Linked DNA regions of Homo sapiens: all the other regions are reported to be linked to region 3. The links are microRNA targets in miRTarBase. Many come from high-throughput screens and were not tested one by one. Region 3 holds a microRNA gene; each other region holds the end of a gene's coding sequence.

Evidence for each region. Region 3 holds the annotated microRNA hsa-miR-3926 (UGGCCAAAAAGCAGGCAGAGA, at 1,297-1,317, opposite strand). A microRNA usually pairs through its seed, bases 2 to 8, with sites in the 3' UTR of a target mRNA and lowers its output. Matches are read on the target gene's strand: a 7mer-m8 pairs with bases 2 to 8, a 7mer-A1 pairs with bases 2 to 7 and ends in A, and an 8mer does both.
Region 1: the mRNA of SOX5 is a reported target of hsa-miR-3926. Seed matches in the 3' UTR shown: 8mer at 1,867-1,874 and 7mer-m8 at 2,897-2,903.
Region 2: miRTarBase lists FFAR4 as a target of hsa-miR-3926. Seed matches in the 3' UTR shown: 7mer-A1 at 2,464-2,470.
Region 4: the mRNA of SNIP1 is a reported target of hsa-miR-3926. Seed matches in the 3' UTR shown: 7mer-A1 at 2,262-2,268 and 7mer-A1 at 506-512.
Region 5: miRTarBase lists MOB3A as a target of hsa-miR-3926. Seed matches in the 3' UTR shown: 7mer-A1 at 1,654-1,660.
Region 6: miRTarBase lists SEMA7A as a target of hsa-miR-3926. Seed matches in the 3' UTR shown: 7mer-m8 at 1,338-1,344.

The regions. Positions count from the first base shown.
Region 1 is chr12:23,531,639-23,534,740 of GRCh38, reverse strand. SOX5 (SRY-box transcription factor 5) reads left to right here. Exons shown (of 15, transcript NM_006940.6): 15 at 219-3,102. The coding sequence ends at 522. Among named protein-coding and RNA genes, the nearest start is that of SOX5, 420 kb to the left of the region's middle.
Region 2 is chr10:93,587,170-93,590,271 of GRCh38, reverse strand. FFAR4 (free fatty acid receptor 4) reads right to left here. Exons shown (of 3, transcript NM_001195755.2): 3 at 200-3,052. The coding sequence ends at 2,663. Among named protein-coding and RNA genes, the nearest start is that of RBP4, 13 kb to the left of the region's middle.
Region 3 is chr8:12,725,457-12,728,558 of GRCh38, reverse strand. It overlaps MIR3926-2 (microRNA 3926-2), which reads right to left and starts at 1,322; the gene lies at 1,260-1,322. It overlaps LONRF1 (LON peptidase N-terminal domain and ring finger 1), which reads left to right. Exons shown (of 12, transcript NM_152271.5): 11 at 2,680-2,832. MIR3926-1 (microRNA 3926-1) reads left to right here and starts at 1,255; the gene lies at 1,255-1,327. RefSeq lists an enhancer at 1,708-1,757.
Region 4 is chr1:37,535,276-37,538,377 of GRCh38, forward strand. It overlaps SNIP1 (Smad nuclear interacting protein 1), which reads right to left. Exons shown (of 4, transcript NM_024700.4): 4 at 1-2,737. The coding sequence ends at 2,473. The region is part of intron 2 of LOC105378649 (a long non-coding RNA gene); the gene reads left to right. Among named protein-coding and RNA genes, the nearest start is that of SNIP1, 17 kb to the right of the region's middle.
Region 5 is chr19:2,070,807-2,073,908 of GRCh38, reverse strand. It overlaps MOB3A (MOB kinase activator 3A), which reads left to right. Exons shown (of 5, transcript NM_130807.3): 5 at 485-2,873. The coding sequence ends at 514. Among named protein-coding and RNA genes, the nearest start is that of MKNK2, 21 kb to the right of the region's middle. RefSeq lists enhancers at 2,035-2,084, 2,115-2,164.
Region 6 is chr15:74,408,017-74,411,107 of GRCh38, forward strand. It overlaps SEMA7A (semaphorin 7A (JohnMiltonHagen blood group)), which reads right to left. Exons shown (of 14, transcript NM_003612.5): 14 at 1,273-2,969. The coding sequence ends at 2,608. Among named protein-coding and RNA genes, the nearest start is that of MIR6881, 1.9 kb to the right of the region's middle. RefSeq lists enhancers at 1,224-1,724, 1,368-1,627.

The DNA of each region.
Region 1 (3,102 bases), not on the chromosome of region 3:
CGAAACTACGTCATCTCAAAAAAAAAAAAAAAAAAAGAAAAGAAAAGAAAAACAAGGTATTAAAGTTCAAGTAGGATGGAGTTTGAAAAATGTTAGGCAATTAGATAAAATTAGTACCTTAGAATTGGACATTGCTGAGCAAATTAATTATGTAGTAAAGTCCACATCTAACTATTCACTTACCCACGATGTCTTTTTGGAAATTCCTTTCTTGACAGGCAACAAGCACAGATCCCCATTGCCACTGCTGGTGTTGTGTACCCTGGAGCCATCGCCATGGCTGGGATGCCCTCCCCTCACCTGCCCTCGGAGCACTCAAGCGTGTCTAGCAGCCCAGAGCCTGGGATGCCTGTTATCCAGAGCACTTACGGTGTGAAAGGAGAGGAGCCACATATCAAAGAAGAGATACAGGCCGAGGACATCAATGGAGAAATTTATGATGAGTACGACGAGGAAGAGGATGATCCAGATGTAGATTATGGGAGTGACAGTGAAAACCATATTGCAGGACAAGCCAACTGATAAGGGTCAAAAGATTGTTGTGACCTTAGGACTTAAAGAAGCCCTAACTGGTTCATCCTTACCAGTGGCCAAGCACATTAACTTTCTCATACACTGACTGTTACTTTAACTGTTAGTCTTAAATAGTTGGGACATCAGCTGACTAATAGACCTCAGCCTCAAAAGGCTTGGAAAGAAAAAACAAATACAACAAGCAAACAACAATATCAACAACAAGAGATTGAAATAAGCTATGGGTAAAATAATGCCAGTAATTCAGCTGCTACATCCAAGCACTGAAGTCTTACCCGTCAACTTTTTTTTTTTTTTAAATAAACTTTATGGCTGTTTGTTCTACAATGTTCTAGAAATTCTCACTCAGGTACACAGTGCCAACAAGTGGCTTGTGAATGTGTTTTGTTGTTTTGTGCTACAATTTTTAAAAAGAAAAAAGTTTTGTTTTGTTTTTTGGGGTTTCTGGGTTTTTTCCTTTTCTTTTTCTTTCCTTTCATTTTTTTTCTTTGTAATGCACCTGACAGAAAAAAAAGAAAAATGAATTTCTCTTTACTTCTCTCCACCTTCTCCATCTCTCTACTTTAAAGATGGAAGTCTGTGCATGAGGGGAAAGAGGGAAAAAGAGCCTGTTTTTAACTTCCTTGCTATCCACCACAAAATAAGCAATTATTTTCTTTAGAGGACTTTATCTATTGCACACCACACTACATCTTTGAGCAAGTGCCAAATTTGTACTGAAGTGTTGACCAAGTTCATTTTTTCTCTTTACTTTTTCCTTTTCCTTCTTAAGTTAGGACAGTGTTAAATCTTAGACAATCCCTTGAAAAACCTGAAATACCAGCAGCTGGTGAGATTTGACTTTTTTTTTTAATGGAAACTGTAGGTGCTGTTCTCAGGTGAAAAGAGAGAGAGAGAGAGAGACATAAGAAATTTAGAGAAAAATATTTTCTGATCTTGGATTTTTGTGTGTATGTATGTATGTGATTATGGTACTAATAATAGGAATAACGTTGGACCATTGTGAGTTAAACCCACATCTGGGGATGAAATCCCACATCCTCCCAAGTGACTGGTCTAGAAATAATCTTGACCTTGACTTTGCACTTCAAATGACAACTTAACCAAGTATAGGGCTCAGAAATTATATTTTTAAATGTCTGATTATTATTGGATGGATCAGGTGGCCCTGTGTAATAGAGGTGTGCATGTATAACATGGAAGCTACTAGCAAACTGCTCCCAGATGTCCTTTCTCCCTGGTCAGTTGGTTCCATTAACGTTTGCTACTTAGTGATTTTTGTTTTTCCTGTTGATATTTTGAGCAAAACAATCATTGTTTTCATTGAATATATTTGGCCATTTTTTCAGACAAATAGAATTAGCTTATTTCTTCAACATTCCATCCTTTCCCGATCAGGAAATGAAACTGATGATTTTATAAGGTATTTTTCACCCCTCCATGAAGTGAGGTGGAGGCCTTTAGCATTTCAGAAGTGTGGGCCATATGTAGTTCATGCCATAAAAAGTAGGATTTAATTAAAAGTCATTGCAGCCCAATAAAATGGAGCCTGGCTGCACCCAGGGATCCTTGCCACTGCTCTTCCCTTGCTGTCAGATTAATCCACTGAAGTCCAACTTTGGTTCAAGCAGAGTATTTGCAAAGAGCAACAACTGAATGTGATGGGACTGCTTATGTAGATTTTGCCAGCCAAATGCCAAGGCAGTTGTAGGGCCTGTACAAATAAATGCAAAATCATTTCAAGTCAATTGCCATTATTTGTATTGAAGTATCAGATAGATAGTAAATACTGCAACTAGTAGCTTGATGTGCTATAGTTTTCACTCCAGTCATCATTTTCCTATCTCACCCCCCGAAACACCACCCTAAAGTTGGATTTTTACATATAAATAAAAAAAGAATCCCTTTTATTTTTCTCTCTCTCAGAAGACTTGCTCTGGGGTTTTGCTTGGAGGAGCTGATCATATCCTGCATGTCAGAGATTTCATTTTGTTTGTTTTTCTGTTTGTTTGTTTTTGATGACTTTATTTACATTTGAACTGCCTCTTTTTGCTAGTGTTGTAATGATGATGATGATAAAATAATAATAATAATAGTAATAATAATAATAATGGTCAGCTGTTCCCAGATTAGTAAGTTATGTATAATTTATTTTATTTCTCCCTTTCTATTTTATTCTGCTCTGATTTGGAAGTGCAGCCAATAAGCTGTTAGATATTTAAAACAAATTTCCATCTCCAACTCATATATGTATGTATATGTATATATATATATACATATATATACACACATATACACACACACACACACATTTACCCACAATTTTACTTCTCTTTCCGTAAGTTTTCTCTTTTTTAAGAATTTTGGCCCCAACAATATCAGTTCTGATGTTTAAAACAAAGGAGTGAATTAATAGGAGGGTCGTGTTCAATCTTAATTAACTTATGCTCTCATCACTCATTTTAGTTATTTAATTGCCACAGTCATCTAGAGCCAATTTTTTTTTGTTTTTGTTTGTTTTGTTTTTAAGCACTCTGGATAAGGAAAAAATAGACACTTGTTTTTATA
Region 2 (3,102 bases), not on the chromosome of region 3:
TCCACCACTTTTCCCTTTTCAGATGCCTCTGTCTCACGAGAGAGAGAGCTGCTCTCCTCTCTCCTTTCTTCTGCCTATTAAACATTCTGTTCCTTAACCCACCCACATATGTCCGTGTCCTTAATCCTCTTGGCGCAAGATGACAAACCCCGGTTATTTACCCCAGACAGCAATGCCGCTTCAATAAGATAGCCACACATCACTTCCAAAAACAGGTTTAATTGATCAAATCTATTAACTAAAGTGAGCAAAACATCTCTGTTCGTTTGTCTTCGAGCTTGTGATATCCATGAATCTGACTTCAGAAGCAAGCTGCTCCAGAAACTGCATAAGCAGTCACTACTGCTGGTGCTGATTTCCTCAGCAACAAAGATTTGTTGAACACCTACTATACACCAGGCCCCGTGCTGCTGTGCATTCCAGCCACTGGCCCAGCCTCCAAGTGGTGGAGTGACCCTGGGTTCGGTCTTTGGCTCTGGTTTCTCTCTATCTCTCCAAGGGATGTATTATAAAACCATAGGTCTATAAACACCATTTATATCTCCAAACAATGTGCATCTCCAGGCCCAAGCTCCACATCTCTGCATCCAACTGCCTATTCAATTTGGAAGTCTCACTGAGATTTCAAACTGATGAGCTCCAAATGAAACTCTTGGCTCCCCCCCCCCTAATCTTTGCCCAGGCCCCCCCATTTTTGTTGCCTGCTTCACCATCCAACCAATGACAGGCTAAAAAATCAGAGTATTCCCCTTGAGTTCTCCCTTTCCCTCACATTCTATCAATTCCATCCTTCCCATCAATAAATCATCTTTGTTTTACCTTCCCAAGGTATATTTACAAGTCATTTCTCACAATCCCTCCCTAATGCCACTCACCTCCAAGGTCCCATCCCCATGTCACACTTCAGCAGCTGCCCAACTGGTCTCCATTTTCACTCATGCTCCTCAGAGTCTATTCCCTGCCCAGCAGCCAGGGTAATCTTTGCACACATTCATCAGGTCACGTCAGCCTCCAGTTGCCAACCTCCAGGGGCTTGGAGAACAGAATAAACTCCTAGGCCCTATGTGATCTAACCCTGCAATTTCTCTGGCCTCAACTGACAGGCCCCAGCCGGGTACCCCTCATCTCAGCATTAAAGGCAGTGCCTAGTGCAGAGGAGGCTCCATCAATAGTCGGCTTACGCCACTCTCCCTTCAAGCGTGTCAGCCTCCTTGCACTAACATCTCTTCTGTGTCCCTTCCCCCATTCACACAGGTGGCCCTTTCTTGTCGCTTACCTTTTGATCCAATTTGTCACTCCTCAGAAAGGTCTCCTTAGGCCCCTCCCCATCTGATCTAAATTCCCATCACTACCATAGCCCCCGTCCCATTTTCTTCACAGTGCTTATTCGCTCTGTGATGCTATACTATTTATTGACTTGTAGCCAGGCGTGGCGGCTCACGCCTGTAATCCCAGCTACTTGGGAGGCTGAGGCGGGAGGATTGCTTGAGCCAAGGCATTTGAGGCTTCAGGGAGCCGTGATTGTGCCGTTGCACTCCAGCCTGGGCATTGGAGCAAGACCCTCATCTCAAATATATAGGTATCTGTATATAGATATAGTTTATTGACTTTTATTTAGTTTTTCTGCCCCTGACTCGAAGGTAAGTTCCCTGAGAGAGGGCCATGGCTGTCTGGTTCACCACTGTATTCCTAGCACAAAGGACACTGTCTGCCATGGCTGGTGCTTAAGAGGCATCTCTGCTGGATGCGTCAGGAGTAAACCACTCCTGAACTCACTCTCAAACATTTCAGAGCCATCCTACTTTCTCTCTCATTTCATGATGCCGATTCTCTTAAAAGGGTCCATAGCATTTTTATAAATGAAAAAAAAAAAAAAGTAAGTCATCTTTAACTGTTCCTTAGAAATTCTTCAATTGCTCTTGACATCAACGAATGATCCTAAACCCTTGCGAGTCCAAGGTAGGGCACAGGGTGGCTGTGACCCTTCAGAGGAGAAATCTGCGTCCTGAATCGGTTCTAAGACTCACTTCAGAAACCACTATGGTGTGGCTTTATATGTAGGAGATGTGATTGCTGAACAGTCATAAATAAATATTTATTAAATTTGATCATATTACAAACACACTAAAAAAGTTCACATTTAAAAGGAACCCATAACAAATCTTTTTTTTTTTTTTTTTAAGATGGAGTTTCACTCTTGTTGCCCTGGTTGGAGTGCAATGGCACGATCTCGGCTCACTGCAACCTCTGCCTCCCAGGTTCAAGAGATTCTCCTGGTTCAGCCTCCCAAGTAGCTAGGATTACAGGTGCCCACCACCACTCCCAGCTAATTTTTTTTTTTATTTTTAGTAGAGACGGGGGTCTCACCATGTTGGTCAGGTTGGTCTCGAACTCCTGACCTCAGGTGATCCACCCACCTCAGCCTCCCAAACTGCTGGGATTACAGGCATGAACCACTGCACCTGGCCAACAAATCCTTTTATAAAGGGAAAATATTATGAAACTTGGTGATCACCCCTTAATTTACCGACGCTGTGGATGTCTATTTGCATAGGTTCATTTTCTTAAAGCAGGGTGCACTGATGGAGGGTACTGGAAATGAACTCTGTTTAAAAGCATGCCACAGCTCGCCAGGTGTGAGAAACTCGGCTATAAAGAAAAATTAGCCAGAAATAATCGACAAGTCATTTCTTTTGACAGATGTGTCTGTTAAAATGGCTCCCTTTTCTGGGAACCAGAAGCAGCAAAAAATTTTCTTCCACTCATTCCTGCACAGTGTCATGTTGTAGAGGATGGGGTTTAGGGCTGAATTAGCAAATGTGAAGGCCACCACCCAGAAGAAGAGGGACGGCCAGATGACCAGGTCTTGCTTGAAGTTCTGGATCAGGATGAGGAGGATGGTGATGATGATGGGGCTCCACATGATGAAGAAGGAGACCATGAGGAGGAAGAGGGTGCGGAAGAGCCGGAAGTCCTGCTGGGACACGCGGATCTGGTGGCTCTCCGAGTAGGCCAGGCTTACCGTGAGCCTCTTCCTTGATGCCTTTGTGATCTGTGGAAAACCAAAACAGGACTGGAGCCACAGGTGACCGAGGGTTGTTG
Region 3 (3,102 bases):
CTAAGTTTTGAAAGGTTTACATTTCTGCCCTGTTTTATTGAATGTATTAGTAGTTGAAGCCGATGGAATTAGTAGATTGAAATTTGATGTAAATGTAAACACATCAAATCTTATAAGAATTGTTTTATATATTAAGATTGTTCTTGTGCCTAAGATAACCTTAATGATAAAATAGAGTTGAATGCTGTGTGAAGACCCTGGGGCAGACATAGAAAGCACTGCCAGTGTACATGTTGGTGATATCTTAACAGGGTAGGGTTTTTGTGATGTCTTTCTAGAATAGGGTTAATGTGGCCCTTTTGATGTTTGCAATACCCAGTTTACCTACTGCAGTTAGTTTAGGAACCGGAAAAGTGACTTATGATGCTACAAATACCAAATTGAAGGCAATTTCTTTTGGAAAGGCATTATAAAAACATAGATCTTATCCCTTCTCTTATTCATTGATCTGTTTAGGCCCTTCATTTCGTCAGCATTTATTGGATATTGGCATTAGGTATTTTCACAAACATTAACTCATAGAATTTTCACAACTCTATGAAATAGTAGATGAGGAAAGTACAATTCAGAGGTGTTAATTAATTTGCCTGAGAGCCTATAGATAATGTAACAAAAATGATTAAAGCAAACTGTCTGACTCAGACTTTGAGCTTTATCACTATGCCATTTGGCTCTCTGTTGATAAACCTGATTAGTCTGACGTTGGCAGTCCTATCTTATTATAAAAATGCTATGGGGGTACTTTGTCTTGTGCAGTTGGCCGAAAGTATTGTGTGAGTTGAAATTTTGAGTTGATTGATAGAATCTGTGCCTTAGGCATACTTGGTTAATGGAATCACTTGCTAAAGGTTCTTCTTTGTAAAGTTAATAACCATATTTCAGTTTTGTGTAAATTTATGTCTTCACTTATTGGATTTGATGACAAAATCACTTGAGTATATGGCTAAATTACATGACTATATGTATTAATACTTACAAACATGTAGGCAATAGAATCACATTCTAAAAGTATTACAGATATGATATTTATAAACGAGTCCTCTTTGGTCCTCGGAATGTCTAGTAATCTTTTCTCATCATGTCTTCATCTATATAATGATTTTCTTGTCCATTCTGGAAAACCTTCTCAAATTTGTTTTATATGGCAAATTTTCCTCTTCTTATAATAATTCTGTTTTCTGTGACTTCTAATGAAATTTTAAGTTCTGTTAAAATTATCACAGTAAAGTTCCTTGACTTTAAAAGCTTGCTTTTAAAATGGAGCTGGCCAAAAAGCAGGCAGAGACTTTAAAAGCGTCTCTGCCTGCTTTTTGGCCAGCTCCGTTTTTCATCACTGACGCTTATAATTGTTATCATTCCTTGTTTACCAGAGCCTGTCATTTGTTTTCTTGAATTTTGTGAGGGTGCAGAGCAGATGCTTTAAAAAAAAAAAAAAAAAAGATTTAACAAGGCATAAGTTTGTTTCTTGCTCCTATCAATGTATGTTAGCAGGGGCCTGAATCATGTATAGTCATTTCAGGACCAAAATTCTTCAATTGTGTGGCTCCTCTACCTTTTTTAAAAGTTTATTTTTATTGTGGTAAAATATACATAGAATTTACCATTTTAACCATCTTTGAGTGCACACAGTGGCATTAAGTACATTCACATTGTTATGCAAAAAACAGATGCTCTTTAAACTTTAGTTTTCATTTCAAATCTTTCAAAAGTAAAAAGTTTGCTTTTTTGTCTCTGGTGTGCTGTAGTCTTATTTTTATATTTCGAAATGTTTTCAGAGTCCCTTTGTTGTTTTTAAATGAGTCATCCTTGAAGTATGAAAGGCTGAGTCAGGCCTGGTATTTTTTCAGATGAGTTTGTGCATATGAGACAGAGCACGACCTGGCAAGTAGCAAGTGGGATGTAAGTGTGCATTAAAGAAATCAGTATAAGATGGATGAGTTAAACTTAGATCTTCCCACCTGTGTTCTCTGAGACTACTCTTCTATCTCAGGCTGGAAGCCTGATGCAATTAATTTTACATTTGCAGTTTGGTGACCCAGTAGTCTAAAGAATACACTGAGGGGTTCCAGAGGTAGCCATAGCCTTGGGCCTTGCCAGCAGAAGCTCATCATTGTGTAATTGACTCTCTGACATACTGGCTTTATATGCTAACTTATTTGTTGTAGCTTTTTGTTTGTTTTTGTGTTTTGACCCAGTTCCCTAGTAAAAGATGTAACTGTGCCTGGACTCCTCCTGTTACTACTTTCTGTCATGTCATCTACACCCTAACTACTTATCTTTTCTTTTTTTGTAGCAACTATCATCCACTTTTTTGTTCCACTGCTTTCAAAAACCATTGATCCATAAAGACAAATGGAATTCCAAATTAGACCTCTGAACCAGAACTCACTCTCAATCTTACTCTTCCCACTTGAGGGCTGTTGTAGGGTTCTGCAATATTGCACTGCTAAGTCAGCAAGGTTAGGCATAGGTCAGGCCTTGTTGTCTTTCTTTAGTCTGGTCAGCCCTATATGAGACAGAAATGTGTATTAAAGCATAGGAATAATACTCTCTGGGACGTCAGCACTGAAACAGGTATTGCCCTGTTCTTCTGATCCCTTTTTCCATTTGTGTCGGTTGGCATATGGCATATGGACGGGGGATTAGACACAGAAGTCTTACTGACTATTGTATTTCTAGGTTGAGAATGAAGATGAGATTAAGAATCTCAGAGAGCTTCATGATTTGGTTTACTCTCAAGCCTGCAGCTGGTTTCAGAATTTAAGAGACAGATTTCGAAGCCAAATTCTTCAGCATTTCGGATCAATGCCCGAGAGGGAGGAAAACCTTCAGGTATGGTGGCTTTTCTGTTCTTCCAAAAGTCACTTTTTTATAAACCCAAATTTGCACACTTCTACATTTGTTTTCTCATTGTCCTTTCTGCACTACTTTTTCTTTGACTGTCCCCTCCCCCGCACCAGCCCCACCTCATCTTTGCAATCATGAGTTCTCTAGAGCAGTGGTCTCCACTACATTCCGTACAGATAGAGGCTGGAAATACGTGTCAGCTGAGATGCCTGTAGGAGAGAGTGCCAGAAAGGGAGCAAGTCCTTAAGAGGATTT
Region 4 (3,102 bases), not on the chromosome of region 3:
CAGCTACTTGGGAGGCTGAGGCAGGAGAATCGCTTGAAACTGGGAGGCGGAGGTTGCAGTGAGCCAAGATGGTGCCACTGCACTCCAGCCTGGGCGACAGAGTGAGACGCCATCTCAAAACAAACAAACCAACAAAAAAACCCACCTTCTCAGATATGTGGCATAAAGAATTTCTTAATCCAGGACGTTATTCCTCTACTAAAATAAAAACTGACTAAACAATTAGGACTTCTTACTGAAAAATGTAGGCAAAGTGGTCATCTATCACAGTGCCCACCAGGATGAAGTTTGTAGCAAAACTCAAGGCTACCACAAAGTAGTGCTACTGCAGCACAGACTGAACAAGGAGATCCTAGAGTAAGATACCAGATTAGTGCTTAAACCCTCAAGAGAAAACCGTCAGTCTGGATCAAGAGAAAAGTTCATCCAAACAAACCTACTTTTCAGACAAGCACATATATATGATCTATGGCACATACCAAAATGAAGAAAATAGCAGTTACAGTGGCCAATGTAGAACACATTCTTCAACTTACCTTTTTTTTTTTTTTCTGAGACAGAGTCTCGCTGTCACCCAGGCTGGAGTGCAGTGGCACAATCTCAGCTCGCTGCAACCTCCACCTCCCGGGTTCAAGCGATTCTCCTGCCTCAGCCTCCCGAGTAGCTGGGATTAAAACAGGCATGTGCCACCACGCCCAGCTAATTTTTGTATTTTTAGTAGAGATGGGGTTTCACCATGTTGGCCAGGTTGGTCTTGAACTCCTGACCTCAGATGATCTGCCCACCTCAGCCTCCGAAAGTGTTGGGATTACAGGCATGAGCCACTGTGCCCATGCCCGGCCCAACTTACGTTTCATCTAATGACCTTATTAAGTGTTCACTTTTCAAAGGATCTTTTAACTTCTTCTGAATGAACATTAGTCAGCTGCCCCTCCCACTAGCCAATCTTTAGCCCTGAGCACACATGGGTATAAAAACAATGGAAAACAATCAAATTTAATAGTATCCTAAGTCTCAACCCAAGAGGAACAATTAGTAGTAACACTGATTGAGCTGCTTCACCACCTTTCCCCACAACCCACCTCCATGTCACCATCTGCTATTCCACTGACTTGGAGGCCAACGATATAACCTGCCCCACAACACTCTAAAACAGCTACCTACTTTTATCTCAAAAGTACTGACAGAAGGCTCCATTAGCAGCAAACAGACCTATGAACACAAGGTCCTCTACGCTAGGAAAGCATTACTCTTTGAAATGGGGCTATATTTACAAATTTTATTTTTTTATCCCAAAAATACATATAAATGAAAACCTGCTCTTCAAATGCAGGGAGGCCTTTGCCTAACATTGTCATATGAAAATCAGTATCAGCTCTTTAACACACAATTTACATATATACATACATACACACTATATGTAAGCAGCAAATACTTTGCTACTTACACATATTCCTCTGGTGGAAAACTAGGACACTGGGAAATTCCCCTGCTTTCCAACCTTGGGAAGGTAAATACAACCTCTCTCAACAACTTTTTAAAGGATGAAATGTGTAGAAACATGTAAACAACACAACCTGCTTTAGATCTATACATGTTATTAGAATAAAGAAAGAACGCTGTCACATCAGTGACAGTTTATTTCTCAAAGAAAAAAAGAGATAACATTTGAATAAAAATGCAAAACTGAAGTACAGTTAATATGATCAAAATTGTTGTGTACATGCTCCATGGAGAAATCAGGAATTCTTTCACAAAGAACAGATCCACAGCCAATTTCAGTCACTTGTGATGCTGAATCAGCACCCACTGGTAGCAACCAGGATCCTTCTGTACAGTCACGGGCTTGAGCAGGTGCCATAAAGCATCTGTTTAAGTTAAACAGTCAATAATGTTTACTGACTGCAGTACATTCCCACCCCCCAAAAAAATAAGTGCAAAATCAACTTCTAAGCTCAAGAGCTCAAACAAGTCAAAGCTTTGGTATATACTGGAGGTTGTTTTGGTGATAACCAAAGCCTAGTAAGATTCTCTGCTCAGGGGTTCGCCCCAAAAGAAAAACACCTGGTCCACAAAGCTTAACACCTATATAAATAAAGTAACTGTACAAAGAGAACAAGCCATGATTTCCCCTTAACCAAGGGTTTATAGTTTCCTAGGCAGCAGTTCTGAAAGCACCAACTAAAACCACAACACTTCTACTAAAACACGGTGTGTTGTAATTGGTGAGACTGTTCTGAAAACAAATGCCTGCAGGCATGTGGCCAAGGTGCCACAGAAAAAGTTTAACAAACATTAGTCAGTGTATTCAAATGGTAACACAATCTGGTCAGCAACAGAGGAAAGACTTAAGGCAGTAAGAGGCATTACAGAGAGCACCATAGTGCTGGACCCACCACCATAGTGCTCTCTGAGTCAATCAAAGACTTCCAAGAAGGAAACCGTGTATCAATAGTTTGGGTTCTTAGTTTGCTAGCTGTCAGACACTTCTTCCTCCTCCTCCTCATCCTCGTCATCTTTCCTGTCTATTTCAGAAGTGTCCGACGACTCATGGAGCAAGACGTATTCTCTGCTACTGAATCCAAATTTGAGTACATCCTTTTCTTTTAGTTCATAGTATCTCTGTGGCTCAATACGTTTGTTGTTTAAGAAGGTTCCATTGCCTGAGCCAAGGTCAATGATGTAGGGCTTCACTCTTCGGCCAACTGTGCCATCAGCACGGGTATATTCCACAAGCCTAGCAGAAAAAAAGGAGAAACCTGTGAGCAAACTTCTGCCTCAGATCATCCAGCTTCTCTAAAGCTCTTTGCTAAGATAGCCTAGATGACGTAAATAACCTGGCTTGAGCACAATTCAAGTTAAAATTCTAGGGAATCAAAGAAATCAAGGGGAAAGCATGGCCCTGGGAAGGAAAATTGGAAGTTTAAATATACTTAGAAAAGGTGAGAATGGACCGGGCGCGGTGGCTCACGCCTGTAATCCCAGCACTTTGGGAGGCCGAGACGGGCGGATCACGAGGTCAGGAGATGGAGACCATCCTGGCTAACATGGTGAAACCCCGTCTCTACTAAAAATACAAAAAAATTAGGCAGGTATGGTGGC
Region 5 (3,102 bases), not on the chromosome of region 3:
CAGGTGCCTGCCACCATGCCAGGCTAATTTCTATATTTTTAGTAGAGACAGGATTTCACCGTGTTATCCAGGCTGGTCTTGAACTCCTGACCTCAGGTGATCTGCCTACCTCTGCCTCCCAAAGTGCTGGGATTACAGGCGTGAGCCACCAAGCCTGGCTGTAAATACAGTTTTATTGGCAGCGAGGTACACTTGTGAGGTTACCATCGTCTGAGGTGGCTTTTGAGGTACAAGACAGAGTTGAGCCATCATGACAGGGACCGTCTGGCCCACAGATCTGAAAATGCTGACTCTCTGGCCTCATGGGGTAGCCTGCTGCCCCTGGTCTCAGGTGTGCCATTGCCTGTGTGGTTTTTGTTGTTTGGGTGTTCAGGGAAGCCCCCAGCTGCCGTTTCTCTGCCTGTGCGTCTCCGTGTGTCTGCTGTTCGCATCACCCCTTTTAGGAGTGGCTGGTGGGAGCTGATGTCTTGCTTGCTCTTTACAGAAAGAAATGACCGCCCGGATGTGCCACTGAGAGCCCCGCGGGTCTCCCGGTGCCCGAACCGCCGCTGGGGCCTCGGAGACTTGGAGGAGGACGCTCTGGAACCATCATCCCGCTTCTCTCCGGCCTGAGCATCTCAGGGAGACCAGGGGCCGAGCCGCTGAGCAGGTGTTGGTCCTCAGGAGCTCCAACCCCGGACGGCAGATGCCTTCCTCAGTCTCGAGCCTCAGTCTCCCGTCTGGGACTAAAACGTGAACTCTGTAATTCTATGTGTTACTAGCAACCGGAAAAGCCCACTGTGTTTTTAAACCACTTCCACTTTCCAGGAGGCTGGATGGCTTCCAGGGTCACTCCTTGCCCTGGGTGGCTCCCAGGCTCCTGGAACTTCTGCCTCCACCTCGCTGGGGAGCCCCCAGGGCTGCTGTGGCCACAGCCCTGCCTGGGCCTGTCTCTCAAGGGCACCCAGCTTGCTCGGCCTCCTACATGTCTCCCGTTGGGGAGGCAAGAGGCTGAGGGGCTTCCGAGCCCCTGAGAGCGGACATCTCCTCCCGCAGGCCTTTACTCCGCACTCCCCACTGGCAGCCGCTGGTGTCTCTTCACACAGAGGCACAACCTGGACCCAGGCAGCCTCTTTCCTCCCTCCCCAATCTCTTCCATTTTTCTACAGATTTTTTTTTTTTTGGTCATACTAGAGACAGGGGTCTCGCTGAACTCCTGGCCTCCAGTGATCCTCCATCCTCGGCCTCCCAAAGTGCTGGAATCACAGGGGTGAGCCACCGCACCCAGCCCTCTCTCTTCCTCAATGCACTCTGCTTCTTCCGTTCTTCCGAAACATTCAGCTGACTGTATCCAGGGCTTCCTGGACTCCTGGGACCCCACGTCCTGCACCCCGGCTTCTGACTCATTTCCTAAGGGCCCCTTTGTGTATCATAAAGGGTTTGATTTTTATAGTCACATTTACAACCATCTTGAGATTTTTATTTTTTTTGAACGGAGTCTCCCACTGTCGCCCAGACTGGAGTCCAGTGGCACAATCTCGGCTCACTGCATCCTCCACCTCCTGGGTTCAAGTGATTCTCCTGCTTCAGCCTCCCAAGTAGCTGGGATTACAGGTGTGCGCCACCACGCCCAGGAAATTATTGTAGTTTTAGTAGAGACAAGATTTCACCATGTTGGCCAGGCTGGTCTCAAACTCCTGACTTCAGGTGATCCGCCTACCTTGGCCTCCAAAAGTGCTGGGATTACAGGCATGAGCTACTGCACCCGGCCTAACCAGGCTGGAGTGCAGTGGTGGGATCTCGGCTCACTGCAAGCTCCGCCTCCCAGATTCACGCCATTCTCCTGCCTCAGCCTCCCCAGCAGCTGGGACTACAGGCACCCACCGTCACACCCGGCTAATTTTTTTGTATTTTAGTAGAGACAGGGTTTCACCGTGTTAGCCAGGATGGTCTTGATCTCCTGACCTTGTGATCCACCAGCCTCAGCCTCCCAAAGTGCTGGGATTACAGGCGTGAGCCACTGTGCCCGGCCAAGAATTTTTTTATCGATAACATAGTGAGCTCTCTGCCTCTTCGGAACGATGTCCACTTTGCTTATGATCAACCCAAGCAGGACTCTTCTCTCCCTGGACGCCTCTCCCCTGGTCTGGAATCTTCCAGTTCTGCCAGAATTGGCCTTTCCCAGATGCTGCAAACTTCCAGTTGAACCCCTTTTTCTGTGTGGCCCCTGGGGCTGCGAGACCAAAATCCATGAGTTCTGTGTACCCTAGACCTTTGGAAGGTGAGAGCAGGGCCCTGAGAAAAGGCAGCCACCTCCTCTCCCTGGCTGAACCCCTGCCACCCTACTCCTCACCAGAATTGTCAGTGGCCTTTCACCACAGTGGTCCTTCCTGCCTGAGCCCTGCACTGTCCCAGACCACACAGAAGTCTGGTCACCTCTGGGCGCCTGGGATGGTCACCGAAGAGAAGCACGCTGTCCCCGTCTCTCCTGGCTTCTGCCAGAAAATCGAACAAGTGCAATTAACACACTGTTACTGCCGAAGCCTGAAACTCCCAGGACTTGTCCTTGATCCTTCCAGAAACCACCAGGTCCGGCACTTGGAGCCCCCCGGAGAGGGACCTCCCAGCCGAGCCCTCAAAGAACTCCATGAAATCAGGAACTGCTTGATGAAATGTATCTCCTTGTACCTGGAAGATGAAGCCCAAACACCCACACCTCTGTCTCCCCCAGGGCTCGGGATGTCTCCAGCAGCCCGGCCACGCAGCTTCCCAGGTGGGCTCGGGGAGGTGGGAGCAGGGACCATCTCTGTCCCCTCCACCCTCACTCCATCCACCTCGGAGACCACCCTCCCCCAGCCAGATACGGAATAAAACTACAGACGCAGACGTCGGAATAAATGGTGTCGTTTTCCTGCCAGTGTTAACAGGGTGCCCTGTCCTAGGGGTGAGCCTCAGGCTTTGGGGCTGAGAAAATCTTTTTTATTTTTCTTTCTTTTTTTTTTTTTTTAGACAGCTACTCAGCTTTTCTTTCTTTCTTTCTTTCTTTCTTTCTTTTTTTTTTTTTTTTAAATCCCAGCTACTTGGGAGGCTGAGGCAGGAGAATTGCCTGAACCCTGGCGGCAG
Region 6 (3,091 bases), not on the chromosome of region 3:
GTCCACAGAAGCCCAGGTCCAGCCCTGCCTTTTACACAGGAGAGAAATGAGGCTCGGGAAAGGCGAGGGTCTGCCCAGGACCACAAACGCCAAAAATGGTGGCAGCAGCCCCAGGTCTCTGCCCCAGCTGCCCAGGGCTCTTCTGGGTCCCCCAAACTCCCAAAGACCCCTGGTCCCATGTACCTGCTGAGACCTTGGTCCCCCAGGGCATGCCGAGTGTTGGGGGAGAAAAGGATGGGGAGAATCCTCAGGAATGGGCTGGCTATGAGAGTGCAGAGCAAACTGAAGTGGGAGGGAGCACTATGGGTGGGGGCAATTCCAGTCCTGTGGGGTTTGCCAGAGCCAACCAGAAGCTGGGCTCGGACAGAGAAGTAAACTGCCCCAAGTCTGCCATGGACCCCTCCAGCAGTCACTGCTCAGGAAAAACGCCTAGCAGACCCCAAAGGCCTAGGTCCTTGCCTCCAGGGACAGGGGACAGAGAAGGGAACAAGGGGGAGGGGAGGCCTCTGGGCTTCTATCTGGACTTCTATCTGCAGTGCTCCCTACTGTCCCTGCCCTTCATCCCAGGACCACTGCTCTCATCCTGACCTCCACCCGCCACCAGACAGCCTCCTAACTAACTCCCCTGCATCCTTCCACCCCAGCCTCAGAGGCTCCTTCCTGCATAAACTTCTGTGTTCTAAAACCTATTTACTTGATCTTGGAGGGAGTCCTGAGTTTCTACAACTCAAATCCTACCTCATCACTCATAAACCCTCCCCACAGGTCCCTCCCTACTCTCCAACCCTCACCCAGACCCCTACCCTGCCTGGAGCAAATCCCATTCCCACATCTCTTCAGCCGGCACCAGCCTCCTGCACACACACTCAAGGCCACAGCATCCCACAGGGTCGCATTTGATCAGCTTGCCCTCCAGAACTGCCCCTTGAAGGCAGGGAGTCCTGAGGCTGTTTCTAGCATGACCCAGGCCAGGCCTTCCAGGGGGAAGTGGTGGGAGGTGAAGGCTGGGAATGGGGAAAAGGGGTGCACGTGCTATTGGGGCTCTGGGGTCAAGGCTCGAGCAAGCAGCACGCTGCTGAGGAGTCGTGGGTTCAGGTCCCCATTCCTGCCTCTCACTAGCTACAGCCCTGCTGAGCTGGCTCCTGGGCCCTAACCAGGACATGAAAGAATGCATGTGATGCTCACGCAGCCAGGGGGTGGCGAGTAATAAACAGGAGCCCCCACCAACACCCCCTGACCAGGACAGCTTTGCAGGCAAGGAACAGGCGCAGGTAAATAAATAGCTTGTTTATTAGTAATATGTTACATTATTAAAGTGCATTGAGAAGAGGTGCAGGGGCCAAAGCTGGAAGGCCACTGGCCCCAGCCACTGCCCTGGGTGGCCAGACACAGCCGGAGAAGGGCCCAGCTCCCCCCTGAAATGGATGGACAGGGCTGGGGGCAGGGCCGCCTGCCTGGAGAGCTCGGCCCAGGCCATCCCCACCGGAATTTTCACAGTTTAGCCTAAGTTATAACATGTCCTGAGCGAAGGTGGGAGGCTAGGAGCATGGAAGCACAGCCCCTGGGGAAGGGGGCTGAGAGGAAGGGAGGAGGCCCCCCGCCCCCCAACCCTCAACGCCAAGGGCAGAGTCCTGGAACCTCCCCCTGAGGACCCGGCTCGTCCTTCCAAATGAACACGGTGAAACTAGGGCTCAGTTTTCTCCTTCATTCTCCCGTTTCCCTCACCCCACCCCCTCCCATAACCACCCCCAACACTAGGGGCTCCAACAACGTCCCCCTCAGACCGGGCTCCCAGGGCAGAGCCAGCTCATGCCACTCTCCAAGAACCCATGCCCGTCTCCAGACTCTTATCTCATCCCCGGGAGCCTCAGACTGGGATCACCCCCGCTCCCCAACCCATCCCTTCCCAGCCCCTCCCTTTCCCACCCACCCCCCCGCATGTAGTTTTGGTATTTTCATACAGATGCAGTCGGAAGTAGCTATACATGAAATAAGCCTAACATAAAAATAGAGCTTTTTCCGTCCTTCCGTCCGGAAAGCAAACATCCTTCAATAAACATGCAAGGCGGCTGTCCTGTGGGACCCAGGACCAGAGAGGGAGCTGCAGAGGACAGGGCTGGACAGAGGGTAGCCCTGGGTCTTCAGGAACACCAGCCACCCAGCCATGAGAGAGGGAGGGGAAGGAGGCAATGTGGGTACCAAGAGTCCAGAAGGACTCAGGCCTCAGCCCCAGGGTCGAGATGGAGTCCCAGCTCTCCTATCCAAACCCACTCCCCGACCCATGGGCTCTTGGGCTGGGAGCATCGCTGCATTTAGTCAAGTTTGAGGAGTCTGAAAAATATTTTCCAGAAGATAAAGTCTTGGGTCATCGATGCCCCAGCTTCACAGTCGGTGCCCTCATTCTCAGCCCCTCACCATCCGTGCGCCACCTGGGGCCCAGCAGCCGCCTGCGGCTGGACGTCTCCAGGCCTGGCATCCTCCACTGGGTTATTCTGTCCCCTGGAAGAAGTGGCAGGCAAGGAGCTCCCGGGCCAGCCGGCTCTGAGTGTGAGACGTTCTAGTGCCCTGGGCTGCAGAAGCCTGAGGCATGCCCAGCCTCGGGAGGCCCTAGTGGACCAGCAAGCCAAGAGTGAGTGTGGGCAGCACCCCCAGCCAGAGGGAGGCGGCCAGGGCACAGGCATGACCCAGCAGGTGCTCGGCCATGATGCCGTCCTCGGGCAGCAGCTGCCAGTGCTGAGCCTCGCGGAAGTAGGAGCCCTCCTGGGCCTCGCAGAAGTAGTGGCCGTACTGCTGCGCCGTGAGGTTCTCGATGAACAGGATGCAGTTGGGGCTCTGGTGACCAGGTTCGCAGCTCTGCTCCACGTTCTCCTTGTGGCGCCATGAGTAGGTGGCGTGGCGGGATTCCATGGGGCAGCTCAGGTAGTAGCGAGAGTTTGGGGCCAGGGAAACCTTCTGCAGTGGGGCCTTGTCTGGGGAGGCAGTGGGGAAGCAGCCGTGAGGAGGGACAAAGAGCTCCCAGGGGAGGATGTGTCCTCCCCACGGACTGGGATCCCAGGACAAGGCTTCTGAATGAACGTGGGGAACCCAGCCC